Linked DNA regions of Homo sapiens: all the other regions are reported to be linked to region 1. Evidence: microRNA targets listed by miRTarBase, many of them from high-throughput screens and not tested one by one. Region 1 holds a microRNA gene; each other region holds the end of a gene's coding sequence. Distances are between the middles of the regions.
Evidence for each region. The annotated mature microRNA hsa-miR-215-5p reads AUGACCUAUGAAUUGACAGAC and lies in region 1 at 4,434-4,454, opposite strand. An mRNA with a match to its seed (bases 2 to 7 or 8) in the 3' UTR can be bound and repressed. Matches are read on the target gene's strand: a 7mer-m8 pairs with bases 2 to 8, a 7mer-A1 pairs with bases 2 to 7 and ends in A, and an 8mer does both.

Region 2: the mRNA of BCOR is a reported target of hsa-miR-215-5p. The part of its 3' UTR that is shown has no 7-base or 8-base seed match.
Region 3: the mRNA of PSRC1 is a reported target of hsa-miR-215-5p. The part of its 3' UTR that is shown has no 7-base or 8-base seed match.
Region 4: miRTarBase lists PIF1 as a target of hsa-miR-215-5p. The part of its 3' UTR that is shown has no 7-base or 8-base seed match.

The regions. Positions count from the first base shown.
Region 1 is chr1:220,113,483-220,120,600 of GRCh38, forward strand. MIR215 (microRNA 215) reads right to left here and starts at 4,480; the gene lies at 4,371-4,480. IARS2 (isoleucyl-tRNA synthetase 2, mitochondrial) reads left to right here. Exons shown (of 23, transcript NM_018060.4): 12 at 832-992. It overlaps MIR194-1 (microRNA 194-1), which reads right to left and starts at 4,759; the gene lies at 4,675-4,759. It overlaps LOC124904515 (a long non-coding RNA gene), which reads right to left and starts at 5,631. Exons shown (of 2, transcript XR_007066883.1): 1 at 5,503-5,631; 2 at 4,260-4,401. RefSeq lists an enhancer at 1,191-1,360.
Region 2 is chrX:40,045,607-40,052,724 of GRCh38, forward strand. BCOR (BCL6 corepressor) reads right to left here. Exons shown (of 15, transcript NM_001123385.2): 15 at 5,645-6,794. The coding sequence ends at 6,503. Among named protein-coding and RNA genes, the nearest start is that of LINC03053, 40 kb to the left of the region's middle.
Region 3 is chr1:109,274,405-109,281,522 of GRCh38, reverse strand. PSRC1 (proline and serine rich coiled-coil 1) reads left to right here. Exons shown (of 8, transcript NM_001032291.3): 5 at 272-386; 6 at 477-746; 7 at 1,034-1,127; 8 at 1,367-1,967. The coding sequence ends at 1,370. CELSR2 (cadherin EGF LAG seven-pass G-type receptor 2) reads right to left here. Exons shown (of 34, transcript NM_001408.3): 34 at 5,772-7,118. Among named protein-coding and RNA genes, the nearest start is that of PSRC1, 5.2 kb to the left of the region's middle. RefSeq lists enhancers at 3,618-3,677, 3,762-4,056, 3,349-4,098, 5,240-7,118 and cis regulatory regions at 6,555, 6,540-6,559.
Region 4 is chr15:64,810,237-64,817,354 of GRCh38, forward strand. It overlaps PIF1 (PIF1 5'-to-3' DNA helicase), which reads right to left. Exons shown (of 13, transcript NM_001286496.2): 12 at 6,338-6,529; 13 at 5,396-6,121. The coding sequence ends at 6,062. Among named protein-coding and RNA genes, the nearest start is that of PIF1, 12 kb to the right of the region's middle. RefSeq lists enhancers at 522-1,029, 1,030-1,535.

The DNA of each region.
Region 1 (7,118 bases):
ACTATTAGTAAACATTTTTGCTATACAGTTAATCTTTTGCTAGTTGACAAATTAAATCAAATGGTAGCAGTTTTCAACCTTATTTTGGGAATGGAGGAAGGGAGCTTTCTTGAGAGGAAGTAACTGTTAGCCATTTGTCGATAGATATATATATATAGAGAGAGAGAGAGATTTATTTTAGAGACAGGCTCTTGCTCTGTCGCCCAGGTTGGAGTGCACTGCCATGCTCATAGCTCACTGCAACCTTGAACTCTTGGGCTCAAGTGATCCTCCCACCTCAGCCTACCAAAATGCTGGGATTACAGGTTTGAACCACATACTTGGGCTTATTTTGAGAAAGTGTTTTCTGTGTTGTAAACTATATTATGTAAAATTAGGTATATCGCAATCTTTTTTTGGCAGTCTACGATAGTAATTTATTTTTTAAGCATTTTAAAAAATGGTGGAAATCAAGTTTGAATTGATTTTAACTATAGTTTAGTGAAGTATAATAGTTCTATGAAAGCTTTTATTACCAGTTTTGATCTAGGGTTGGTGTAAATTAGAAATTGGTATGAAATCTTTTGTAACATTGTTAAAAAATGCAACAATGCTCCTGATATTATCACTGCTCCCGATATTATTTATTAAGTTCTTCGCGGCTCCATTTTTACTTTGCCTTATTTGCTCTGAAATCTTTTAGTTCTTTAGTTGTTTTTTTGAGGGGAGGGTAAGGGAGGTATGTGAATGGCTACAAACATCCAAAAGAAACAAATGCATTTGGAAAATTGACTGTTCTAGAATACTTGTTCTGCTTTCTCTCACAAGACTTGATTTATGAATTAATTGCAGGAATTGTTAAAAAAGGTGAAATTTATTCCTGGATCAGCACTGAATGGCATGGTTGAAATGATGGACAGGCGGCCATATTGGTGTATATCAAGGCAAAGAGTTTGGGGTGTTCCAATTCCTGTGTTTCATCATAAGACCAAGGATGAATACTTGATCAACAGGTAGAATGCTTTCTAAAATTTTTTAGTGTTTTAAAGTGAAATATTTTTTCTTCAAAAATTGAAAAATAATGTGGATGATTAAGAACCGTTTATATATGTTAAATAAAATATGCTAAAATAGTCTTTTGGGGGACTAAAATATAAGTTCAAAACAATTCTATCATACAGTTAAAATATTAACTAGATTTTCTTAAATATTGATACTTAGAAGTAAAGTCTCTGACTTTTTTTCTATGAGAATTTATTGGGCTGTATTAAGGTATCATGGATCCAAAGATGGACAGTGTTTAGCAGGGGAGCCTGAAATGTATTTTTTCTAAAGGAATGAAGAGAATCACTCTCACATTCTGAGTCTGCTTTCCTTTTCAGTGGAAATGGGATTATGTAATTGTGTAGATACTTAAAATTTAAGAAATTGTAGTTAAATGCACATGATTACACTGATGATTATATTCCCAGTTTTTCCCTTTTTTTTTTTTTGAGTTGGAAAGGTAATAGATGGACATAGTGAACAATTCATAGTAGAAAAGCTTGTACACTGAAAAGTAGGCTTTTTCCTACTCCAGGTATCCAGAACCTTTTTTTGAGGCAGTCATTGTTTACAGCTGTTTCTGAATCTTTCCAGAAAAAATGAATTCTTCTGTCAGCACATACATATGTTTATACAAAAGAGAGTATCTCTATCTTCTGCTCTGTGCCTAGATTTTTTTCACTTTATGTGTTATGATTTATTCCAAATCACTACACATAGATCAGCCTCATTCTTAAGCTTTATTAAAGCATACTTTACATACTATAAAATTCATGGCCAGGTGCGGTGGCTCACGCCTGTAATCCCAGCCCTTTGGGAGGCCGAGGCTGGTGTATCATGAGGTCAGGAGTTCAAGACCAGCCTGGCCAAGATGGTGAAACTCCATCTCTACCGAAAATACAAAAATTAGCCAGGCATGGTGGCGCGGGCCTGTAATCTCAGCTACTCCGAAGGCTCAGGCAGAGAACTGCTTGAACCTGGGAGGCAGAGGTTGCAGTGAGCCAAGATCGTGCCACTGGACTCCAGCCTGGGTGACAGAGTGAGACTCTATCTCAAAAAAATTAAAAAAGAAAAATTCATTTATTATAAGTGATTTATAGTAAATTTGTTAAGTTTTACAGCCACTATCATAATTGTGTCTTAGAATAATTCTTTTATCCCGAACAGCTCCCTTTTGTGCTTTTCGAAAGAGAAGTTGCTTGGAAATCTGTGAGCTTTGGAGAATGGCAACTGAATTTGAACCCAGGCTTTGCCATTCACTGTGTGTGAGACTGAGGAATTTACTTAGCCTCTGGCTCCTCTATAAAATAGGAAAAGCAATGGTTGCAGGTAGACTGTTATGAATACTAAATAATAAATGCAAACTACTTGGTGTAAAGCACAGTATTCCATAGATGATGAGCTATTCATGTATTCACTTAAGAAACATTGTTATGTGGGCACAGTGGCTCATGCCTGTAATCCCAGCACTTTGGGAGGCCAAGGCGGCAGGATTGCTTGAAGCCAGCTGTTCAAGATTACAGTGAGACCCCATCTCTACAGAAAAATTTAAAAATTAGCTGGTGTGGTAGTGTGGGCCTGTAGTCCCAGCGACTTGGGAGGCTAAGGCGAGAGGATCGCTCAAGTCCAGGAGTTTGAGGTTATAGTGAGCTATGATCATGCCAATGCACTCCAGCCTGGATGACAGAGCAAGACACTGTCTCTTCAGAACGAAACAAAACAGAACACATTGTCAAGCACTTAGTACGTGTCAGTGCTAGGAACTGCTAGTTGCTACAGTGAACAAGACTGACATGGCCCCTGTTTTTAATGAGATAATAGTCTAGCTAGTTTATCTTCTAGTAATATTAGGGAGGCTTTGAGTGTTGTTGCTGTTTTTCACAGATGTGGAGAGGGGAATGTTAATTCTTCCTTTTAGGAACACATTCCAGATTTTCATTTTCTTTGAGCAATTTTTTTTAATTTGGTGAATGGAATTTTTTCTAAATTATGCTATTAAGAAGTTTAAACTTTTAAGTAGACTTGAGGAGTAAGAGTATGTTTTAGGAAAAGAAAGTAGAGGCTAGAGACTGGAAAGTCATTGGAAAGCTATTTCAATATTATTATAAGTTGGATCTGAGGTAAGACTTTAGGAATAATCTAAATATTGTTGCTGTGGTGTTCTTACAGAGCTTGGTCAGATGTAAACTACTAATATCTTAATACTTACATTAAGAATTAATGTAAATTCTGTCCAGTTCAGATTATTTTATTTTATTTTTGATACAGTCTCACTCTGTCACCCAGGCTGGAGTGCAGTGATGTGATCTTGGCTCACTACAACCTCCACCTCCCAGGTTCAAGTGATTCTCCCTCCTCAGCCTCCTGAGTAGCTGGGACTACAGGCACGCGCCACTGACTTGGCTAATTCTTGTATTTTTAGTAGAGATGGGCTCTTGCCACGTTGACGAGGCTGGTCTCGAACTCCTGGCCACAAAGGATCCATCCACCTCTGCCTCCCAGAGTGCTGAGATTACAGGCATGAGCTACCATGCCCAGCCTCAGACTTAGTTTAAAAGAAAAAGAATTAAAGTGATTATACCTGAGACGAGTTTCCACAAACATTTGTTTAAAATTTCACACTGGAAAGTTTTTTTTTTTTTTGGAAAGTTTTATAAGCCATGTCATTGTCTCCTCTTCTTTTTTTTTTTTTTTTTTTTTTTTGAGATGGAGTTTCACTCTTGTTTCCTAGGCTGGAGTGTAGTGGCACGATCTCAGCTCACTGCAATCTCCGCCTCCCAGGTTCAAGTGATTCTCCTGCCTCAGCCTCCTGAGTAGTTGGGATTAGAGGCATGTGCCACCACGCCCGGCTAATTTTATATATATATATTTTTTAGTAGAGACGGGGTTTCTCCATGTTGGTCAGGCTGGTCTCAAACTCCCGACCTCAAGTGATCCGCCCGCCTCAGCCTCCCAAAGTGCTGGGATTACAGGCGTGAGCCACTGTGCCCGGCTACTCTTCTTTTCACTATTTAGAGAGCAAGATGTCTAGGGAATTTCACTGAAGTGATTGAGGTGGGTGGGGATTCCTTGGTGGAATAGCCCTCTGGACTCTGAGGTGGATCATATGTATGTATTAGTAAATATAGCAAACTGGTTTAATTGATACATCCTGATAATTAAATGGTACATAGGTTGACTGGTCAGTAAGTTAGGTTAAATAAATATGAGCTTTGTCAGAAAAACACAAGTTTTCATTAGGTATATTTATGTTTTATTTACTCAATACATTTACATGGTAGTGTTACAGATTATCTTCTGTGTACCTGCCATTGCGTTGGTTGCGTGGTGTTAGTCGATTTCTGATATTGAAGTAGCACAGTCATACAGAATATTGGCCTAAAGAAATGACAGACAAACTCAGCTATATTGTCTGTCAATTCATAGGTCATTTTCCTGTATACCATTTCTGAATGATGACTTTAATCCTCTTCCATTATTGGATCTTTTTGGTGTTACAAAACTTGAATTTAAGAAAATTGATATTAATTCTTAATCATTTGTTAATTTTATAAAACAGGCTGAAAATCTTTTTTTCTGCTGGAATCAAATGAGAGTCCAAGTGACCACAATTTTCTGTCTTTCTTTATTATACCTTTATATTGTAGCAAGTTGGTAACCATCAAAAGTAACAGCATCTCCACTGGAAATTGGTACACAGTCCACATGGAGTTGCTGTTACACTTGATAACACCATTAAACATATAAGGAGATTCCTTTTGCTCATCATGGGAGCTGTACGATATCTCTAAGTATACTTGTTTCACAGAAGAAAGTCTCGATTTATTCATGTTCTAAATAAGTTTAGGGACTGGTAGATTTGAAACGCTGATGTTTTATTTTGATTTGAATTAATAGTGTCATTTGCATTTTAGATCATATTTGTATTTTATCAAGAAATAATTCCATTTCTGACTTTACTGTCATTGGTCATTTTTTGAATCTGTGAGATAATGCCATTAGAATTTGGGTTGAAATCTGTTACTAGTCAATAAAAACAGAAGAAATAATTTTTAGCATAAAAAAGATAAAATGTAGAAACACTGGCTACCTGGGAAGGAAAAGAAGTTGGTTAAATTTCTTTCATCATTTCAAACAGTTATAATCACTTTCATGCTATTAATGCTATAGTTAACATAGTGAAACTTAGCCCCTAACTTCTGGAAATTATGAGAAATTTAGTAAAAATAGCCAAGGAATTTCCAATATAATTTGAGTGTTAACTTTAGCTACCTCAAATTTTTTCTCAGTTAACAATAATAAACCTTTTGTTCAAAAAATTTATGTTCATTAAATAAAGAAAAATTTCTTCAAAATGGTTTTCTGTCAGCTTTAAAACATAAATCTAGGATTAAACTAAAAATAGAATTTCCCCTTCCAAATTTCACATTGTTCTAGAATTAAATTTAGTAAACAAATGTGAAACATTTAGCCTCTTACCTCATTCTTCTTCCAGTAAGTTACAGAAGAAAAGTTGTCTTAATAATCTTCAATATTTTTGCTTATAAAGGCAAAACACAGAAGACAGTGGGATGACAGCAGTCGTTTCTTTGTTGCTTTAGTAATCTTAATGCTGCTTAATGTCCATAACACGCTAAATAAGCCTCATTCCGGTTGATATCGAAGTTCAGAATGATTGGCTGATGTCATAGTTGCTCATGCTACCTAGTGGATTTTCACTGATTGAAACCTAAGAAGGGACACGTAATGCATGTGTTGAGATAAGGCCTTTGAGTAAAGTACAAGGTTTTATGATGGATTTATTGCTTTATGAAGTAAAGCATTAAGATGGAAGCATATAGATTACATACTGGTAAGTGGTTTCACCCACTTTTATCAGCAGTCGTTTATACTGATCTTTGGGTTATAGGTTAACTATGAGTTTGTGTTAAGTATACAATGTTAAAGAAATGAAGGTAGAATTCTTAAATTTCAGACAAATTAGGAATTTTCCTGCATTTTTTTCTGAAGAATATTAAATATCACAAGGAAATAGTTAGAAAATTGTTTAAAAATTTTTTTAGGAAACAGAAAATTATTTAAGAAATCTTTTAAGTATTATCTTGGTTTCATTATAAAAAAATTCCACTTCTAAGTATTTACCCAAAGGAAATAGGACTAATACCTCTTGTGTGAGGATATGTATATAAGATGTCCAATACAGTTGTTTATAAAGGAACATAATGATATACAAAAGAAGATGTAATTTAATTAGTTATAGAAGAATGAATATGTACCTGTTAAAAATGTCAGCTTAGCTCTTAATGGTTGCCTAGTTCCTTGTGTATGAAAATCAAATGAACATAACTTATCCAGTGTTTGGATTTTGTTAGATGTTTGTCACATCTCTATAATGAGTGTCTTTTGAGCACTTGTTCACAGTTAACTTTATATACTTTTTTCAAATTATCTTTTTAGATTTTGTTTGAACATTAAGTTTATCTTTGTTTTTATCATCATTATACCTAGCTCAAGTTTGTGGGTTATATGTCTGTTTATTTTTATTGCAATTTTTGTTTTCAAAGCTCTCTGTCACACTTTTTTTTTTTTTTTTGAGTTGGAGTCTTGCTCTTGTTCCCCAGGCTGGAGTGCAATGGTGGGATCTTGGCTAACTGCAACCTCTGCCTCCCAGCTTCAAGCGATTCTCCTTCTTCAGCCTCCCAAGTAGCTGGGATTACAGGCTTGCGCCACTATGCCTGGCTGATTTTTGTATATTTAGTAGAGATGGGGTTTCTTCATGTAGGTCAGGCTGGTCTCGAACTCCCCACCTCAGGTGATCCGCCCGCCTCGGCCTCCCAGAGTGCTGGGATTATAGGCGTGAACCACCGCGCCCGGCCTTTTTTTTTTTTGAGATGGAGTCTCACTCTGTTGCCAGGCTGGAGTGCAGTGGTGCAATCTCGGCTCACTGCATCTTCTGCCTCCTGGGTTCAAGTGATCCTCCTGCCTCAGCACCCCCCAAGTAGCTGAGACTATAGTCACGCACCACCATACCTGGGTAATTTTTGTATTTTTGTAGAGACCGGGTTTTGCCATGTTGCCCAGGCTGGTCTTGAAGT
Region 2 (7,118 bases), not on the chromosome of region 1:
ACCCTGCCCGGCCAACCTTTAAAGTTTTTATAGAGATGGGGTCTCCCCAGGTTGCCCAGGCTGAGATGCTCTCTTTCAAAAAATAACTTATTGTAGAAAATTTCAAACACACACAAAAATAGAGAGAAGTGCACAATTCAGAGACCTCCATGTACCCATTTCCTGCTTCAAAAATTACCTACTGATGGCCCGGCCAGGTGCGGTGGCTCACGTCTGTAATCCCAGCACTTTGGGAGGCCAAGGCAGGCAGATCACAAGGTCAGGAGATCGGGACCATCCTGGCTAATGCGGTGAAACCCCACCTCTACTATAAATACAAAAAATTAGCCGAGTGTGGTGGCAGGCACCTGTAGTCCCAGCTACTTGGGAGGCTGAGGCAGGAGAATGGCGTGAACCCAGGAGGCGGAGCTTGCAGTGAGCCAAGATTGCGCCACTGCACTCCAGCCTGGGTGACAGAGAGACTCCGTCTCAAAAAAAAAAAAAATAAATAAAAATAATTACCTACTCATGGGGCTTGTTTCATCTACATCTCCATCTTCTCCTCCCACTGGGATGATTTTGAGGCAAATCCCAGATATCATATACATAAAGATTTCAGCACACATTGCCAAAAGATTTGGAATAAAAAAAAAAAAAGTTCTGGGCCAGGCTTAGTGGCTCACGTCTGTAATCCCAGGCCAAGGCGGGAGGATTGCTTGAGCCCAGGAGTTCAAGATGAGCCTGGCCAACACAAAGAGACCCTATCTCTACAAATAAAAAAAATTAGTTGGTTGTGGTGGTGCACGCCTGTGGTCCCAGCTACTTGGGAGGCTTAGGTGGGGGAATTGCTGGAAACCAGGCAGTAGAGGCTGCAGTGAGCTGTGATTGCACAACTGCACTCCAGTCTCCGTGACAGAGCAACACCACATTTTAAAATTATATATATAAATATATATATATATATGTATATATATATATATATATATATATGTATATATATATATATATATATATGTATATATATATATATATATGTTCAGCATTCCTATTTCCCTGGTTTTTACAAATTTTGCAATTTTTTTTTCTTTTTTATAGTTTGTTCAAATCAGACTCACAGATCCATGCTTTACATTTGCTGGTATTTCTCTTGTCTCTTTTAGTCTAGAGGTTTCCTCCTCTGTTTTTTTTCCCCTTGCAAGTTATTTGTTAAATAAACTGAGCCATGTGTCTTTTTTTTTTTGAGATGGGTTTTTGCTCTTGTTGCCCAGGCTGGAGTACAGTGGTGTGATCTCGGCTCACTGCAACCTCCACTTCCCTGGTTCAAGCAATTCTCCTGCCTCAGCCTCCCGAGTAGCTGAGATTACAGGCGCCCGCCACCATGCCTGGCTAATTTTATTTTTATTTTTTTGTATTTTTAATAGAGACGGGGTTTCACCATGTTGATCAGGCTGGTCTTGAACTCCTGACCTCAGGTGATCCACCCACCTCAGCCTCCCAAAGTGCTGGGATTACAGGCCTGAGCCACCGTGCCCAGCCCCATGTGTCTTATAGAGTCTCACAGTTTGGCTTTTGCTGAATGCATACCCATAGTGTCCTAACGTGTTTCTCTGCCCCTTGTATTTCTTGTAAACTGGTAAGTAGACTTAGACCTACATTGTCCAGTGTGGTAGCCAGTAGCCACATGTGGCTACTGAGCACTTGGCAATGTGGCCAGTTCAAGCTGAAAAGTGCTGCAAATGTAAAATACACATTGGAGTTTCTAAAGTCTTGGTATAAAAAACAAAAGTGTCTCGTTAATGATTTCTGTATTGATTGCATGTCAAAATGGTAATACTTCGGATATACGGAGTTAAACAACATATGTTATAAAACTTACTTTTGGCCGGGCACTGTGGCTCATGGCCTATAATCCCAGCACTTTGGAAGGCTTAATTTTTTTGACACAACCCCACTGGCTTCTTGTATATATCTATACTCCCTTCCAATTCTTCCCTGCCCCAAACTGGAATCAACCATTTCTCAAATAAAGCTCAGTTGTTTTTAATGAGGAAAGGTATTTAGAAACCATAGGCTGGGAGCTATGGTGCTCATTTCTATCAGTCATTGTTTCCAGGCTTTTTGAGAGGACAGAGCTAGGAAACAAACTTTCCTAAGATAAAATATTAATACATCATGAGTTCATAGTGATACTTACAATTCATGTTCAGGGCTGGATAATTTATCTAACCTTGCCAATTCTATATTTTCATCTCCTTTCTCTCATGTTGAAGTCCCAGTTCTCAATACCAACATTTCCTTTTGTTTTATCTCACGACACAAACAGGACAGACTCAGAATAACAATACTGACACTACCAAAGATAAGATTACTGAAAACAACTATAAAAATGTTTTCAGGCCAGGTGTGGTGGCTCACTCCTGTAATCCCAGCACTTTGGGAGGCCAAGGTGGGTGGATCGCTTCAGCTCAGGAGAACAGCCTGGCCAACACAGCAAGTCTCCCATCTCTCCAAAAAAACAAAATAATTACCCCAGAATGGTGGTGCTTGTCTGTAGTCCCAGCTATTCAGGAGGGTGAGGCAGGAGGATTGCTTGAGCCTGGGGAGTTGAGGCGGTGGTGAGCCATGATTGTACCACTGCACTCCAGCTTGGGCAAGAGCGAGACGAGACCCTGTCTCAAAAAAATAAATAGGCCAGGCATGGTAGCTCACGCCTGTAATCCTGGCACTTTGGGAGGCTGAGGCTGGGTGGATCACCTGAGACCAGGAGTTCAGGACTAGCCTGGCCAACATGGTAAAACCCTGTCTCTACTAAAAACATAAAAATTAGCTGGGCATGGTGGCGGGTGCCTATAATTCCAGCTACTTGGGAGGCTGAGGCAGGAGAATTGCCTGAACCCAGGAGGCAGAGGTTGCAGTGGGCAGAGGTTGCAGTGAGCAGAGGTTGTACCACTGCACTCCAAGTCTGGGCAACAGAGCAAGACTGTCTCAAAAAATAATAATAATAAATAATAAAATAAAATAATAATAATTGGAAGACCACTCTAAAGCAAGTTAGGGAACTATTCCTCAATTCTTTTTCCAGTTGCATAGTATTCCACTGTGTGGGTGTACCATTGTTAACTCGACCAGTGCCCAACTGATGGAGATTTGGGTGTTTTGCTATTACATCAATTAACGTAAATGGCAGGTAGGGTAGGGCTGGTATGGTGGCTTGGTTCCAGGAGATTCTCAAAGACCCATGCTCCTTCAAACTTGTCCAGCAGTGCTCGACTTCGATACTTCATGGTCCAAGGTGGTTGTGACAGCTATAGCTAGAGCAGCCACATTCTAGCCAGGAAGAGGGAGGACAGGGCAAAGGAAAGCATGTCCTGATCCTAAGGGACACCTTCAGAATTGGAATGAACCACTTCTGCTGTCTACCCGTGGTGAGCTCCACTGCACTCATGTTGACCTTCATGGAAACTCTTCTATGTTGCTGGTGGGTTCCTGGACACCCAAATGAGGGCCTATAAAGGTCTGCTCTGTACCTCTGGTGAGCTCTTCTAAACCCATGGTGTTTCTATACGGCCAATACGATCTCATCTATGCCTGTGGTGTCTTCTACACCCACTCCCTTCCCCCCAGGAGGAGTTCTACTGGAATGGGCACTCTACCTGCAGTGGGATCTCACTTACACCTGTGTTAACATCTTTGCCTGTGGAGAGCTCTTCAACGCCCGAGGTGACCTTAGATCATGATTGCTCCAAACCTGTGGTGAGCACTTGAACACCCATGCTGAGTTCCTCTCAACACACAATAAGCTCCCCTACCTTCTGGTGACGCGTCCCTCTCCCTGTGGAGTGTGATCTGGCCCATACCTGTGGCCCACTCTATGTTCATGGTGAGCTCTATTACCCATGGGGAGTTCCTGAGCAGGGGTGGGGCATTGCTCTACATCCAAACCTTTCTCAGCCATGGGGATCTCATCTATACCCCCAGTCAGTTCTACGTCCATGTTTCCAACCACCCTGACAGTTCTTGCACTAACTGTTCTGACTACTAGCTCCTCCAACTGCATGAACCACAGCCTTAAATGTCTCCTGCACCAAGCTGCTTCTTCTGCACACCCTAACCTTGTGGCTCTCACCTGTTTTCCTAGCTTAATTAACAGAATGACCTTCATCCAAGATAAAAATCTCAGTTGGCCTTGGGCTCCCCCTTTGCCTCCAACCCCAATACAAAGAGCCGGATGCCCTTAAGTTTTTATTATTTTTTAAATCTGGGTGTGTAGGATCTCTCGTAGCTTTGATGGTAGTTCAGCTTCACCAGTCCTCTTCTGCTTAAATCATTTCTACAGGTCTGTTTTACTGGTCTTGTCGTCTGTTTTTTTCCCTTCAACACTCCCCCTAGCTATTTGAGGGGACTTCCTGTAAAACAAAAACTAAGTAAACTGTTAATAGTGGTTAACATGGGTGGGGGAGGGGAGGGGATAATAGGAAACGTGTCTATTTCTGACATGATTGGGTTTTTTAAATAAGGTATACATTTTCTAATATCAGAAAAATTAGTAAATAAGATGGTAGGCTGCCTTTTGTCTTCAAGATACACTCCAAACTTCATTCGTAGCCAACCTTCCCCCAAAAAGGGCTCTTGCATTCCTCACATGGAATTTCTTCATTCCCAACAATGCCTCACTTTTCCTTTTTTTTCTTCCACAGTGTTTGCTGGCCTGACAAATACAGTGTCCCCACAGCCTCTTTCCTCTGCTTTCGCAGTCCTAGTGTTCCATGCAGGATCAGAAAGCACTGAGGGCATTCGGTGCACAAATGGATTTGACACAAGGACCCAGATGAATAAGGTCTTTGGAAGGGCTGGGGGAACAGGAGTCAGGGACAACTCTGGATCCACAGGGTTCACGAACAATCTGCTGAGGCTGTCATCCAAGAATTAGAAAGCTGCCACTGCCACAACCACTACTGTATCTCATCACCCACCAAGCTGAAAACCAGACACTGGAATGCTGGTCAGTCATTCCAACTGGCTGGCATTCTCTTCAAATTTTCCTATCCGCAGCCACTATAGTAGGAAGGTGCCCCTACCTCATGCTGCCCTCCAAACAGAATATGCACTCAGAAAGCTAGCTGCAAGGGAGTCAAGTAGTTTTCAGCTTTCTAGCCTCTATAGTGAAGGACAGGCACAAAAGCAAGTGAGATGGAAATCAAGGGCCAACTGATAGTGCCCAGTGCAGATACTGCTGGGAAAAGTCAAGAACAGAGGAAAGGCTGGCTCTACAGGCCTTGACTCTCAGGCCATGCAACAGAAGGGCTGCAGAAGTGACATAACAAATGCCTAGCTTCAGAAAAAACACTCCTAGAGAGTTGGCCATGACGTGGGACTGAAATAGGTCAAGGCCAAAGGCAGTGCAAAAGCCTCCATAAGCATCAAAGGAGACAGGAAAGAGAAGGTTCTAAGAGACAGGAAATATGTCCAAGAATTGGGCTTTCAGAATAGGACTCCAAATTATATTCTGAGTATAACTCCTCCAAAATCCTCCAGTCTGCTTTGGTTTCCAGAGACTATAAATTGCTCTAAAGTTATCTATAGGGAATACATCACCAGCACCATTTAAGAAGAATCAGGGACAACAATAATGCTTTAGGAATACATGGGACACAAGGTACTTCAATTTTCTCCTTTCCTCAACAGTTTTATTGCCTTTTAAGAAAATTTTTGTAAAATATAAATACAAAGGCAGAGAATTTACTTACAAAGTTAAAACACAGATTTCAAACATAAACACACGATTCAGAAAATTTTAGTTTTATGTACATTTCCAAGCAACCTCAACATATTATGTTAGTTTTCAATATTTTACAGGGTACAGAAAAAAATAGCTCAAAGTCTTCTTTAAATAAGAGCATAAAATGTTTAAACATATAAACAATCCGGTTTGATGCGTGAAAACTAATTTCACAGCTTTTAAATTAGGATATAAAAGTTTCATACAATTAGTTGTTGTGTGTGGATATGGTTTGAATTTATATTACACACTACTGGATTACATCCAATAGCATTTACCTGGCCCGAGCAGGTACTCTGTAAACAAAACAAAGTTATATCACCAAGTGCCTTCCCCGAATTCGCTCCCTCAAACCAACCACACAGTTCTGACCACTCTACAGTCATGGCCTGTCATCAGAGCTTTGTATGAAATTAAGTCAAAGTGTGGAGCTCCTTTTACTCATTTTTTTTTCTCCTTAAAAAAGAAAAGAAACAAATGTTCCAAGTAAAAACAAACGTATCCCAAAGCATGTGTGCATTGAAAAGTAAAGAAACATTATAACAACTTCATAAAAACTGACTTAAAAGTTTAAAAGGAAAAAAACATGTTTCTAAGTCCTTCTGACTGGAGTAATTTCTCTTATATAAAGAAGAGATATTTTCATATGTAATAGTGTCCTTTCTTTACAGAAATAGTTGTATTATGACACATATGCACAAGGATTAACACTATAACACACTGTACATGGTGGGTCCAGCTTGCTCACCAGTAGTTGTCTGAGGCCAGATCACTGGGGTGGAGCCACTCTACAGAGGAGCCCAGCAGAGTCTGAATTTCGTTCGTGAATTCCACCAGATCTAACAGCTCCTTACTTTCAGGGTTGAAGGCTTCCAGGTCTTTGGAGCAAGAGAACAAGAGACTTGCAGAAACCTGCCGATAAAATTCTGCCTCTGCAATGGTGACAATTTCCACGTTTGGAAAATTGCAGCGAAATATGCGGGAGGACATTTTCAATTTCTTAAGGACATCCGAAAGCAGTAGCCAGTTTCGTGGCCTACAAAACAGAAAGGAAAATGCTTTGAGTTTCCAGTAAAATGAAAAGTGCGCCCAACTATTAATATTAACTACCAACCCAAGTGGACCAGCCTCTATGTCCTTTCATTCTGCTCCCACCCCTCATTTCTCACCATACCTACTCTCTGATCACCATTTTTTTTTTTTTTTTTTTTTTTTTTGGAGACGGAATCTCGCTCTGTCGCCCAGGCTGGAGTGCAGTGGCGCGATCTCAGCTCACTGCAAGTTCCACCTCCCAGGTTCACGCCATTCTCCCGCCTCAGCCTCCCGAGTAGCTGGGACTACAGGGGCCCGCCACCATGCC
Region 3 (7,118 bases), 110 Mb from region 1:
TCTACATCTAGAATTGTTGGAATTAAATGAGAACCATGAAAAAAGAGAACCAAAACTCTTACCACAGTGTCTGAGTATATGTCTATGATAAACTCAATAAATGGTATTGGCAATAGTGATGGTGATGGTGATGTGGTGATGTTAGCAGCTAACTTCTACCCTTCCTTACTGGGATGTAGACAACTCTCCACCTCTATTTCTTAATTCCTTAAGCCACAGAACAGATATTTTTTCCACTCTAGTCTTTTTTCTCTCTCTCTTTGTGTTTCAGGAGTCACCCACTTGCAATCTGTTCCCTGCATCCAAAAGCCCAGCATCTTCTCCTCTTACCCGATCGACTCCCCCAGTCCGGGGGAGAGCCGGGCCCAGTGGGAGAGCAGCAGCCAGTGAGGAGACCAGAGCAGCCAAGTTGCGGGTGAGTGGGAGTGGGGAGTTTGTGGGATTGACCCTGAAATTTCTCCACCCCTCTCCACCAGGCCCACCCACCCCCATCAGATCCGTCCTGGCCCCACAGCCTTCTACCAGCAACTCTCAACGCCTGCCCCGGCCGCAGGGAGCAGCTGCTAAATCTTCCAGTCAACTGCCCATTCCCTCGGCCATCCCCAGGCCTGCCAGCCGAATGCCACTCACCAGCCGGAGTGTGCCACCTGGCAGAGGTGCCCTACCTCCGGATTCTCTGTCAACTCGAAAAGGGCTTCCAAGACCAAGCACTGCAGGACACAGAGTGCGGGAAAGTGGACACAAGGGTAAGAGGTCAGGAGGAAGAATGCCCGCCCTTGCCCAGCGTGTCCTCACCCTCCCAGAGCTGTCAACAGTGACCACTTTTGCCATCCTTATTGCAATTCAATTGGAAGATGGGGAGACTGAGTTACAGAGAGGATATGGGGCTGGACAGAGTCTGAGTCTTAGTTTTCAAATACCTCATGGTCAGGGGGAGAGTACTAATCCCACACTCGCTCCCTTCATCCAGTATTTCTTTTCGAGGTCAGTTAAACTTGCTGCTAACTCATTTCTTTTGTTAACCCCCATGAAGTTCCTGTTTCCCAGCGACTAAATCTTCCTGTCATGGGTGCCACTCGCAGCAATCTGCAGCCCCCCAGGAAAGTGGCAGTCCCAGGACCTACCAGGTCAGTCTGGTCCTCCCTTGCCCATCCTGTCTCCCTACCCCGCCATCATCTGGGATTCCAAGCTGTTATGCACATCAGCCCTGAATTTTGTATGGAAAGATGGAGAGAGGAGGGGAGCCTGGGGCAGGGGAAGGGGGATCCCATTTCTTCCCACCCTGAGGAGCTTGAATTCTGCTGGGTGACAAATGGGCTTGAGGAAGAAGGGCATTTTAAAGCAGTTATTCCTTCTATTTCTTTAGGTAAAGAGATCAGGACAGCAAGCAAGACTTCAGTAGCAAACCACTACAGTCAGTACCTGGACTCGCCTCTACCCAGCAGACCCTGACTCCAGCAGATTCTGGCCCAGGGACAGGAGGAAGAGATGCCACCAGGGCTGGTCTCCCAGGAGTAGAGACCATGGGAAATGGGGTGGATTAGGATTGAGCTGGAGAAGACTTAAACTCTCTGGGTTGAAAGAAGATTAGGGGAAAAGAGGTCACCTTCCAGCAGTGAAATGAACAAATAGAAGATGAGAAGTACAGGCAAGTGGTTTGTCTTTATCCACCCCCACTGTTGTGGTCAGCCCCAGAGAATTTTATCTTCTTCCTTGGCATTGGTTCACTGGACATTTCCACGTGAGCGGCCTCCGTAGCTAACCTCCCTGCCCTCTGAGGAGCCATCTTCCTGAATCGCATTCTCTACTGGACTCTGGCCTGCTTGGAGAGGTGGCAGCAGGCACCTGGTCTTCAGAAATTGTTTCCTGTGAATTCTGTGACTCCTAATAGGCCAGTTTGTGATAAGCTTACTCTATGAGTCTTCATTTTTCTAAAATAAAGTGAATGTATTTTTATATTCTCTGTATATCTGGAAGTCGATCCTGCTCCTATTTCTTTCTCTTTTTTTAGACAGAATCTTGCTCTGTCACCCAGGCTGGAGTTTAATGGCGCGATCTGGGCTCACTGCAACTTCCACCTTCTGGGTTCAAGCAATTCTCCTTTCTCAGCCTCCCGAGTAGCTGAGATTACAGGCGCCTGCCACCCACGTCCGGCTAATTTTTTGTATTTCTAGTAGAGACGGGGTTTCACCATGTTGGCCAGGCTGGTCTCAAACTCCTAACCTCAGGTGATCCACCCGCCTCAGCCTCCCAAAGTGCTGGGATTACAGGTGTGAGCCACCGCACCCAGCCCCTGCTCCAATTTCTCTTTTTTTTTTTTTTTTTTTTTTTGAGACGGAGTTTTGTTCTTGGTGCCCAGGCTGGAGCACAATGGTGCGATCTCAGCTCACTGCAATCTCTGTCTCCCGGGTTCAAGGGATTCTCCTGCCTCAGCCGCCCCGAGTAGCTGGGATTACAGGCATGCACCACCACATCTGGCTCATTTTGTATTTTTACTAGAGATGGGGTTTCTCCATGTTGGTCAGGTTGGTCTTGAACTCTCAACCTCACGTGATCCGCCCGCCTCGGCCTCCCAAAGTGCTGGGATTACAGGTGTGAGCCACCGCACCCAGCCCCCTGCTCCAATTTCTAACAAATTTGGAGTAAATCTCTAATTCCAGGCAGGGAGCCAGGATGGGCCTCCTAGGCAGGGGCCTGAATAGGCCCTAGGGCCTTGAGATTCCAGCTTATCAGGCTGTGACTGCTCCCCTTGTTGGCATTAGACAAGGACAGGCTGCCTTTCCCCAGGTCTCAGGTATCATTGGAAGGTCCAGATGAAAGTTAAGTGTAGCTTAATTCACAGTATGTGAGGCTATTAAGCTAGGATCTAGGTAGATTCTTATTTATATCCTAAACTTGAATGTCCTTTACTGGCAAAATAATGGAGCCTCCTAGAAACGCACCAGCTTCTTGTTTGCTCTCCCTGTGAGACGTGAAGGCCCTTTGGTGGTGTTCATCTTCCCTGATCACCTCAGCCAGAGCTGCTGGAACACCTAGTCAGGCTCCAACTAACATCACTGGGGTTGTCTGTGCTCTCCTCATCTCCCCTGTTAGACTTGGGGGTGAGCGTCAGGATCCGGAAACCTCTGCAGTACCCTAGTGTTGTGACCTGTGTGTAGCAGAGCATTTAGTTTATTTATTCAGAAGATATTCGAGTGCAAGATGGTGTTTGTTGAAGGAATAACAAAGACACGTTTAACAGATTTGGTGTAGGGCCTCCCTTTTTTTGCAGCCTTTAACTCTAGTAATCAGAACCAATTCAATTCCTTCTGAGTTTTGAGGAAACTTCCCTCCCTGAAGGTCAGGCCATGACTTGAGAAAAGCAGCAGGTAAGTGGGCAAAGAGAAGTGGGACTGCCAGCTGGTGCCCCCACCCATGCCTATTTGGCCATAAATGCCTGACTTAGGCACCAAAGTGTCCTTGCCCTGTCCCTGGAGCCAGAGGCCCATCACTGCTTTCCCCTTTTTGTGGCTGATTCCAAGGTTCACCTGGCACATTCACCTACTTCAGTGACAATGCCTAGATATGCACCTTTCCCTGAATTCTGCAGCAACTCCCGCAGCCTCTGGGATTCCAGGAATCGGTGGGAGGGAAGGGGTATGCAGACAGACACGGAGTATTCAGCTCTGGAGAAATTTGGCGTAAGGCAAGAAACCTCAGGTGTGCTTCCCAGCTGCGCCCTGCACTGGTGTCTAGTGAGCAGGGCCTGTTGGTGGCTCCTGGGCCAATAGAAGCACTGGAAGGTCAGCAGGCTTAGGTACACACCTGGGTGAGGCCAGAAGGTGACATGTTTGTGTGGAGCCATGTCCAGGGTGGGTCCTTAGAGGCAAAACAAGCTGCAGACCCATGTGTTGTTGCCACCTGGCGGCTGGAGAGGGCATGGCACATCCTGTTCGCCCTCTTGGTCAGCCTTGAGTTTTGTCCCCACCCCACCTCCTCCCACTCTAAACCTGCTTCAGCAGCACTTTCAGTAAGCAGTGCCAGTCAGGGAGGAGGCCCTCCTGCCATGGCTGCCCTTCTTGTTCAGCCACCTGCCTGTCTCCTTCCCTTTGGGCCTGGCTTTCTACTTTTTCTCTCTGTGCACTCTTCCATTGCACCCAGTAGCAACAACACAGAAAGCCAGTGTTTACTGGCCTCTTACTATGTACTATGAACTCTTCCAAGCACTCTACATGTGTTAACTCACTTAATCCTCATAAAAGCTCAATTAGGTGGATGCTTTTATCATCATCCTCATTTTGTGGGCAGAGAAACTTAAGGCTCAGAAAGATTAAGTCATTCAGTCTGGTTCTAGGGTTTGTGTCCTTTTTTTTTTTTTTTTGAGACAAGGTCTGGCTCTATTACCCAGGCTGGAGTGCAGTGGTGCGATCTTGGCTCACTGCAGCCTCTACTTCCTGGGTTTGAGCCATCCTCCCACCTCAGCCTCCCTAGTAGCTGGGACTACAGGCATGCACCACCACAGCTGGCTTTTTTGTATTTTTTGTAGATATGGGTTTCACCATGTTGGCCAGGCTGGTCTCTTAACTCCTGGCCTCAAGTGATCCACATGCCTTGGCCTCCCAAAGTATTGGGATTACAGGCGTGAACCACTGCCCAGCTAGGGTTTGTGTTCTTAATCATCACCCTATATTGTCCCCAGGTTAACTCCCTTTCTAGTTTTTTTGTTTGTTTTGAGATGGAGCCTCGCTCTGTCACCCAGGCTGGAGTGCAGTGGCACGATCTCAGCTCACTGCAATCTCCACCTCCCAGGTTCAAGTGATTCTCCTGTCTCAGCCCCTGGAGTAGCTGCGATTACAGGCATGTACCACCGCACCCAGCTAATTTTTTTGTATTTTTAGTAGAGACAGAGTTTCACCATGTTGCCCAGGCTAGTCTCAAACTCCTGATCTCAGGTGATCTGTCCACCTCGGCCTCCCAAAGTGCTGGGATTACAGGCATGAGCCACCGCACCCAGCTGCCTTTCTAGTTTATTGAATGGAACTTCGACAAACACAAAACTTGGAACTAGGCCGGATGCGGTAGCTCATATCTGTGACCCCAGTTTGGGAGGCCAAGGCGGGAGGATCACTTGAGCCTAGGAATTCAAGACCAGCCTGATCAACATAGTGAGACCCCGCCTCTATTAAATTTAAAAAGCATATATACTTTTAAATATATATCATATATATACACAAAAACAAAACTTAGGCTGAGAAGTAATGTTGCAAAGCACACACTTGGCTTCAGTATGAGTAGCTGCTTCATTTTCCAATGGGAAAAAAAAAACAAAAAACAACCCTGAGCAGTATAGTTAGGAGGCACTGAGTCACTGACCACCATTCAATTCCAACCAGCCTCTCAATGCAGCCCTCCCTGCTTCTTGAATTCTGCCCCAGAAAACTCATCCCTGTCTAGGACTCAGCCCTGAGGGGCTGGGCTGGAAGGCTGCCTGCCCCGTGCAGCCTCTCCCACCGTAGAAGTCCTTTCCGTCCTGGTGAAAAGGACACCTTCCTGCCCGCCCACCATGTCTTCCTTGGAAATGCCAGGAAATGGGCTCTGTGCTGATCCAGCTATTTGGGAGCAGTGTCATGGACATGGGCAGAGGGACAGGCTTATCAGCCAGTGGTGTCTGAGTCTCCCGACCTCCCGGTGGGGCCTTCTGGGCCCTGCCGGCTCTTCTGTTTTCCAGAGACCAGACCTTCCTCCCTGTGGGAGGACAGGGTACCACACAGAAGCGGACAGTGACAGTGCTGTACCCGCACAGAACTAGTTTATTCAGTAGTATGGGGCATGAAAAAACAACAACAACAAAACGCTACCCTATTTACAGCAACAACCAAACTGTACAATCTGATGGTTAGTACCAAGTTAGCATCCAGCATCTTTGTATTTTTTTTAAATCAAGTCATCAGTAGTAAAAACCAGTTAAATTTTTAACCCTTTGCAGGAATTGCTGAGGGGAGAAGACGGGGGAGAATCCACGGCAGAAAAGCCAGAGGCTGGCCTCACAAATGAGAAACAGGAGCCTTTCTTTCCTGCCCACAGCCTCTTTTTCTAGCCACCTGCTCCAGAAGGAAAGTCAGTGACAAGTCTGGAATACATGCTTGGAGTAAATGGTGACTCAGATGAAAAGCAGTCGGCAAAACTGAGGAGAGGGGAGGAGAGGTGGGGAGATGATGGCCTGGGGCAAGGGGAAGGGCGTCAAGCCCCCAAGCCAGGGCTGCTGGGAACACCCAGCCTGTGATGGCCATATCAGACCCCCGGGACTGGACACGAACCCATCCCAACACAAAAAGCAAATAAATAAAACAAATATATTAACTCTCTCTTCACAGGGAGCTGGGGTGGAGTCGGGGAGAAAGAGGAACAGGACCTGGTCCTTTGAAGAAGAGAGCCAATTCCAAGAAGGGGTTAAAAATAGAACATGTCTCAGAGGCCACAGCAGGTTAGACAAAGTAGCATTTGTCTGATTTTGGGGGGTGGGGTGGGTGAGTGGACACCAGAACCCAGACTTGAAACCTGTGCTTGATTGAGCACCCTCAGGGCAGCCGAGCCAGCACTGTGTTTACTCTTCCTCCCCCACCCACATCACAGCAAAGAAGCGCAACTTAACACATGACTGGCCTGCCCGGGGCGCGGGGCGGGCACGAAAAATGAAGCACTTTTGGGTCAGCAACTGAGCAAACACCTGGGCTGCCGCGCACGGCCAGAGTCCAGGAAAAGGAGAGGGGCTGGGGCTGCCCGACCCCCGCCTGGGGGCACAGGCTCCCCTGAAAATGTGTTCATGCAGCATTTGGGGGTCCAGGGGCGCTGAGTCCTTCTGCCCCCTCACCGGACAGGGCTTTTCCAGTTCCTGGGAGAGGCAGTGCGGGCAGGACGAGGCACACCCTTTGCCCTGGCCCCTCACCGTTCTGAGGCCTGCCCGGGTGCAGCCTGAAGGGTGTGAAGCCCTGGCTGCGTGTGGCTTTGTCCTTTCCTTTTGGTGATGGCGTATGAGGGGCAGGCCCCCCAGGAGTCCCTCTCCTCCCAGAGGCACAGCAGATGGGAAACTGAGGAGAGGCTGGGAAGCATCCTGGGAGGTCCTATCCTCTTTGGGAAGG
Region 4 (7,118 bases), not on the chromosome of region 1:
ACTGAAGACAGGGTGAAGGAGCGCACAGGGCTCAGGGTTCTATTCTAGTTCCAGTTCTGCCACTAAGAACCTCTCCAGGCCTCAGCTACCTCCTTTGCAGAATGGGAGTAAACATTCCTTACCTCTCAGGTCACTGTCCAAGCCTTTGTTCACTTATGAAACATTTAATGAAGCATCTGCTTTCAAAAGTCATCCTGCTGAGGGTTGTGAGGACACAAAGACATCTCAGCTGTGTCTCTCGGGATCAAGGGATCCGCTTCATCCTAGCAGGGAGACTGAGCTGTAAATTGCTCACTACCCTCAGATGCAGATCCCAGGGGACACTGAGGAGGGAGCATAAGGCACAGGAGGCAAGTGGAGGGACAGCAGGTAGTGGGACTCCCCCTCCAAGGGTGAATGTCTTTGAGAAGTGGCAGGAACTGTGACAAGTCAGGTCATAAGATTATCTTTCTGAGGGCCATCGCCCCGCCCCTCTTGCCTGGCCCCCTGCCTGCCTCCCAGCTGGGGACTGGATCGCCCTGGGCTGAGCCCCCTACTCTGGGCTCAGCCCCCTCAGGGCCAGGCCAGCCTCCCCACATACCACCTTCTCTTGCATTAAAGCCTTTAAAGTGGACCATAGGTCCATCAAGGATAGTTCACATCTCTGTGCATTTGCACTGTGTAGCTCCTCTCTCCAAACACCTTTTCTCCAACTCGTCCACCTGGCAAAGTCAACTCCAGCCTTCCTGTGGGAGAGTGGAGAGGAGAGTGCGAAATCCCCCAACTAGGAAGGAAACAGAAATGAAGGGGTGCCCCCTGCCCCCATCAGCAGTGGCACAGCCTGTAAGAATGTGAAATATACATTTGGTCTTCATCCCCATTTCCTGGCATACAACTCCTAAAATCCTTGGAATCTCCAAAGTGATAAGTGTCTTTTTGTATGCTGATGATTGCCTGATGGCCGGCAGCCCCTAGGCAGCTTCAGGATGGGGCTGGTCACCAGAAAGACCAGGGCAGGATTAGAGGGTTGGGACTTTCAGCCCCACCCTATGACCTCAGGGGAGGGGAGGGAGCTGAAAGTTAAATTGATGACCAATGGTTAATCAATCATGCTTACATAATGAATTCTCCATAAAAGGCCCCAAAGCAGAGGTTCTAAGAGCTTCTGGGTAGCTGAGCAAGTGGATATTAGTGGAGGAAGGCTTTCCCACAGAGGGAAGCTCCACACCCCTTCCCCCACGTATCCTTTTCTAATAAAGTGATAAATGTGTTTCCCTGAGTTCTGTAACTCACTTTAGGAAATTAATCAAACCAAAAGAGGGGGGTCTTGGGAACCCCAACTTGAAGCCAGTCGGTCAGAAGTTCCAGAGGCCCAGACTTGTGACTGTCTGAAGGGGCTGTCAGTTTTGGTGACTGAGTCCTCAACCTGTGGGATCTGAGGCTGCCTCCAGGTAGATAGCTTCAGAATTAAATTAGAGGACACCCAGCTAGTGTCCGCTACAGAATTGCTTGTTTGTTGATGGGAAGAAGTCCCTGCATTTGGTCACAGAAGTCTTCTCTCTGTGTTAATTGTTGTTGCTGTTGAGAGAACAGGAAAAAGCAGTTGGAGTTTTTCCACCCACACCCTGCTATATGAGGGCAGCTTTCTTGGGCAGGTAGCAAGTCCTGGTCGCCTAAGGGTAAGCTCTCTACCTTCCTTATTTCTTTGTTCATTCCCTTGCTGTCTGCCTGCCCCTTTCCATGTGCTGGGTGTGTGTGTGTGTGTGTGTGTGTGTGTGTGTGTGTGTGTGTGTGTGTGTGTGTATTTTTGCTTTGTTTTGTTTTGAGCTGGAGTCTCACTCTGTTACCCAGCCTGAGTTTCAGTGACATGATATCTTGGCTCACTGCAACCTCTGCCCCCTGGGCTCAAGTGATCCTCCCACTTCAGCCTCCTGGGACCACAGACACGCACCACCATGCCTGGTTAATTTTTTGTATTTTTGGTAGAGATGGGTTTCACCTTGTTGCCCAGGCTGGTCTCAAACTCCTGATTTCAAGTGATTCACCCACCTCAGCCTCCCAAAGTGCCGGGATTACAGGTGCGAGCCACCGTATATGGCTCTCCCTGTGCTTCTTTGCCTCAAATCCAGAAGTTATCTGAGGACACAGTCTTTCCTGGCCTTTGCTTCACAGGTAAAGTTCCTTGAGAGGATGATGCTGGGGGGAAGGAGAGGCAGAGAGAAGGAGGGTTCCATAGACTGGGGAGGGGCAAGTGGTCAGAGGGTCCTCTGGGAGCACCACAGGGAGGTGGCAGGGGCCCAGAGGGCCTGGCATGAGGTACTGGAGAGTCTCAGAAAGCCTCCCACCCCATCCCAGGGCCCAGGCTGAGTTACTGCCTATGGATGGTGATCAGGGCGGGCCCTGAAGATGAGAGCGGCTCCTATAAGCCCCACTCTCATTTGACCCTGGGGATTGAGGAGCCTCCTGTCTGACTGAGATAGGGTTTCCCTACACCCCTCGGGATACAGGCTCAAAGTTAAGTTAAATTAGATGTCAAGAAAATAGAGAGCCGTGAGGTTTCTTGCACACCTCATAAAATAATCCACTATTGTGATCTGGCATGCGGGTCAGGAATGTCTGGAGCTCACCCACCATGTGGAACTCACTTGTCTTCCTCTGGGGGCCTTCCAGAGAGCATCTTCACCATGAGAAGGGATTGCTAAGGAGAGGACTTTCCGGTGCCCAGGTAGTCTCACGAGAAAGACATTTTATATAGCAGGACAGATGCATATGAGACTGGGAAAAGCTGTGATCAGCCCCTGCGGAAGGGGAAGGGGCTGGGTGAGTGGGATGCCTCAGCCATGTGTGGAGGATGGAGTCAGAGAGAGGAGTCCCAGGTGAGGATGCAGAAGATAACTGCATCACCGGACCCTCAGACATCCCCAACAACCCGGCCTTCGGGGGTGATTAGAGAGTCATCCTGGACAGAATCACTAGGCCCTCTTGCAACTTGATGAAACATTTGGCCTCTTGCCAGTAGCCACAGGACTTGCATGGGAGACCAAGGTCACCCAGCCCCATACCCGCCTTTAGGTCTGAACTGAATCGGGGGAGGAGGTAGCAGAGTGCAGAGCTCCTGCCCCTGGCAGCTGTGCTCAGTGTCTGGTGGCGGCTGCAAAGGTCTTCCTGGCCTGACTGCTCCCAGCTCTACTCCTGCCAGTGGCTCTAGCCTTTCTGATTCCTATTTGTTTCCAAGCCTAGTTTTCTGGGCTTCATATCAGTTCTTTGAGATAGCCTGTTGTTATCTTCCTTTCCTGCTTCAATTATCCTGAGTCAGTTTCTCCTCTTTCCATCCAAGACCACCGAAGGTTGCAGAGCTGTTAGAGAATATGAGATAGTGCTATCTGGGCTGAACTGGGTGGTCCCCAGACCGTGTGTTCAGTAGAAGGAAAGAGTGAAAGCAGCAAAGTGCAACCAGATTGTAACTGCCCTGAGGGCAGGGCCTCAGTGTGACCTGCTCACAGCTGGACCTGGGAGAAGGGATGTGTTGCATGGGGAAATTGGGAACATCTGACATATAAATGGCACCACATTTAAAGACCCCCATGGTTGCCCACTTGTTGTGGGGTAGGGGAAGGAGGTGTCACTCTGGTGGGCTTGTTTTCTGCTCCTAAGAGTGTCTTCTGTTTGGAACAGAGAAAAGAAATTGTGTCACAGAAAAACAATTGACTCAGCCGGGCGCAGTTGGGAGGCCAAGGTGGGCAGATAACAAGGTCAGGAGATCGAGACCATCCTGGCCAACATGGTGAAACCCTGTCTCTACTAAAAATACAAAAATTAGCTAGACTTGGTGGCATGTGCCTGTAATCCCAGCTCTTTGGGAGGCTGAGGCAGGAGAATCGCTTGAACCAGGGAGGCAGAGGTTGCAGTGAGCTGAGATCGTGCCACTGCACTCCAGCACTCCATCCTGGCAACAGAGCGAGACTCTGTCTCAAAAAAAAAAAAAAAAAATTGACTTCTCCAGGTCAGGGAGGGTGGCACCACCATGCCCAGCTAATTTTTGTAGACATGGGGTTTCACCATGTTGGCCAGGCTGGTCTTGAACCCCTGACCTCAAGCCTCCAGAGTTCCTCCTGGGACTACACCACTGTGCCCGGCAAATTTTTGTTTTTTGGTAGAGACAAGGGCTTCATCATGTTGCCCAGGCTGGTCTCGAACTCCTGGGCTCAAGCAATCCACCCGCCTTGGCCTCCCAATATGCTGGGATTACAAGTGTGAGCCACCTTATCAGGCCATCTTTTTTTTTTTTTTTTTTTTTTTGAGAGAGAGTCTCTCTCTGTCACCCAGGCTGGAGTGCAGTGGTGCAATCTCAGCTCACTGCAAGCTCCGCCTCCCGGGTTCACTCCATTCTCAGCTTCCAGAGTAGCTGGGACTACGGGCGCCCACCACCATGCCCAGCTAATTTTTTTGTATTTGTAGTAGAGACGGGGTTTCACTGTGTTAGCCAGGATGGTCTCCATCTCCTGACCTCGTGATCCGCCCGCCTTGGCCTCCCAAAGTGCTGGGGATTACAGGCGTGAGCCACTGCGCCCGGCCCCAGCCACCTTTTTTATTAATCTGACACCTGTAGCTGCCAATGCATGCCTCCATCATAACCCATATTTACCACCCAGAATCGATACCTTTTCACTCACAAGCAGAGAATCTTAGTTTTAGCTAGCCTATGAGGACCCCTGGGCAATTTCCATCAGGCTTTTTGAAAAACTGAAGTTAGTTTGTTGATGATCAGGTTCAAGCTGGGGAGACCATCAAGGCTCAAACTGAGAAATTTCAACCCAGGCTCCTAGCAAATGCAGCAACATATAGCAGGCCTGTTTGTTTCCCACCACGTGAATTCTCTAGTATGTCTGACTATTGGGTGATGGTAACTCACCTTCACCAAATGACAACGTCATTTCTGTTTTGTTTTTTTTTTGAGACAGAGTTTCACTCTTGTTGCCTAGGCTGCAGTGCAATGACGCAATCTCAGCTCACTGCAACCTCCACTTCCCCACCTCCCGGGTTCAAGTGATTCTCCTGCCTCAGCCTCCTGAGTAGCTGGGATTACAGGCATGCACCACCATGCCTGGCTAATTTTGTATTTTTACTAGAGATGGGGTTTCTCCATGTTAGTCAGGCTGGTCTCGAACTCCCGATCTCAGGTGATCCACCCGCCTCGGCCTCCCAAAGTTCTGCGATTACAGGCGTGAGCCATCATGCCCGGTGACAATGTCATTTTATTGCTAGTCACCAACATCAGATAACTCAGCTTTTCAAACGACCAGTGATACTAAGACCACCTCACAGAAGGGTGTGATCTCAGCCACTGTGGCCTAAACAAACACGTGTGTGCACATGCACAAGTGAGAGGGGGAGAGAGAGGAGGCAGGAGGCACAGTTTTTACACAATTCTCTAGTTTATTTGTCCGAAATAAATACAACCTGAGAACATCCATTTCAATGTCCCCAAACACTATTTATCCCCTGAAAAAGCAGCTTAAAATATGGGTGCACATTTTGCAGCTTATGTTCTTTGGTTAGGCTCTGAAGGGTGTTTGTTCTGGGCTGGGCTAGGCTGGGCCTAGCTGTAGAGACACACCTAAGTTCCGTTCTCTGTTTGGAGGCTGCACCCAGCCTGAGTCCCCACCAGTCCCCTCCAAGAGCCCTGATGCTGCTTCCGGAGCACCTGTCTTCATTGCCTCTCCCTTCTGCAGCCTGAAAGGAGGGATGTTCAGGACTCTGCAGCTCTGTGTCCAGCCCTTGCAGAGAGCTTTGTCCTCTGACATCAGCTACCACACAGGCTCATTCTCAACTGGCACAGAAAGGGTTACTTCTGACCCTACAGCAGCTTACCCAGGGCAAAGTGAGAGAAACTGAAGCACAGCTGGTATATGGGTTTAAAGTACTCTCCCTTTAACCCTGCCAGGAGGCTGAGAGTCCCTAAAAAATACAGAAGGGGACACTGCCTGCCTACTCCAGTTATTCCCTGGGGCCCTGGGCCACTAGGGAGCAGGAGGACGGGGAGGCCACAGGCCACCCTTTGTCTTCTCTTTGTGGGTGAGGCTCAGAGGATTGGGTCCATGTTCTCCTGGTCTGAGGCTGCCTCATCATCATCTGGGGACTCCTGGATCAGAGCCAGAGAAGCCCAGTCATGGGTTTGTGCTGTTCCCCAGGACCATAACCTGGGGGCCAGCATCTCTTTCCTTTTGCCCTCACCCCTAAAGGAGCCAGCAGAGGGCTTTTCTGCCCCCACCCCAGGTCCCACTGGGCCGGCGCTCCCTCTGTCCTAGCTCCCACCCTGCCCGTGGCCACAGCCCACCACTGGATGACTCCCTCTTACCAGACTGAGGCTCCTGCCCCGCCGCAGGGTGGCATAGAAGTGCAGCACACGGGGGTCACAGCGAACCGCCATGGGGTCAAAGTCCAGCACACGTAGGCCCTGCAGGCTGCGGGCCCGAGAAAGGGCCACATAGGCCTGGCCACTGGCAAACACACGGCCCAGAGAAATCTCCACACAATCCAGGGTCATGCCCTGGGGGATGCAGGGACAGAGATGGAGTCAGCTCAGCCTTAAGTCCCTTGCCCCGAAAGGCCTGACCCTTTACCAGCCCTGCTACTGCCCCTGGATCTCCTCGTCCAGTCCAGAGAGTCTCTAGACAGAGGGAGAGCATGACAGCAGGTGGCTGTCTGAGTAGGAGGGGGACCGGGAGACAGATCCAGGTAAGAGTTGAGGGATGGAGTGAAAGGAAAGCACTCAGGCTCTGGGTCAGACAGGCGTGGAGCTGAATCCAGGCTGCCACTCACTAACTGTGTGACATGGGACACATGAGCCCTGGTTTCTTTCTGTGCAAAATAGGATTATTCATTATATCTATACTTTATACTTGATACAGTGGTTGTATACAATTTATACAATTTTACGTATCTAGTGGTGGCTTAGAAAATGGTGGGGCAGGAGATGGCAGAGGGGAAGTGAATGTATCCAGGAAAGGGAGAGGAGGTGGACTTGGAAATTCACTAAAGAAAAGTTTATTCTGGGCTGGGTGTGGTGGCTCACGCCTATAATCTCGGCACTTTGGGAGGCCGAGGCGGGCAGATGACCTGAGTTCGAGACCAGCCTG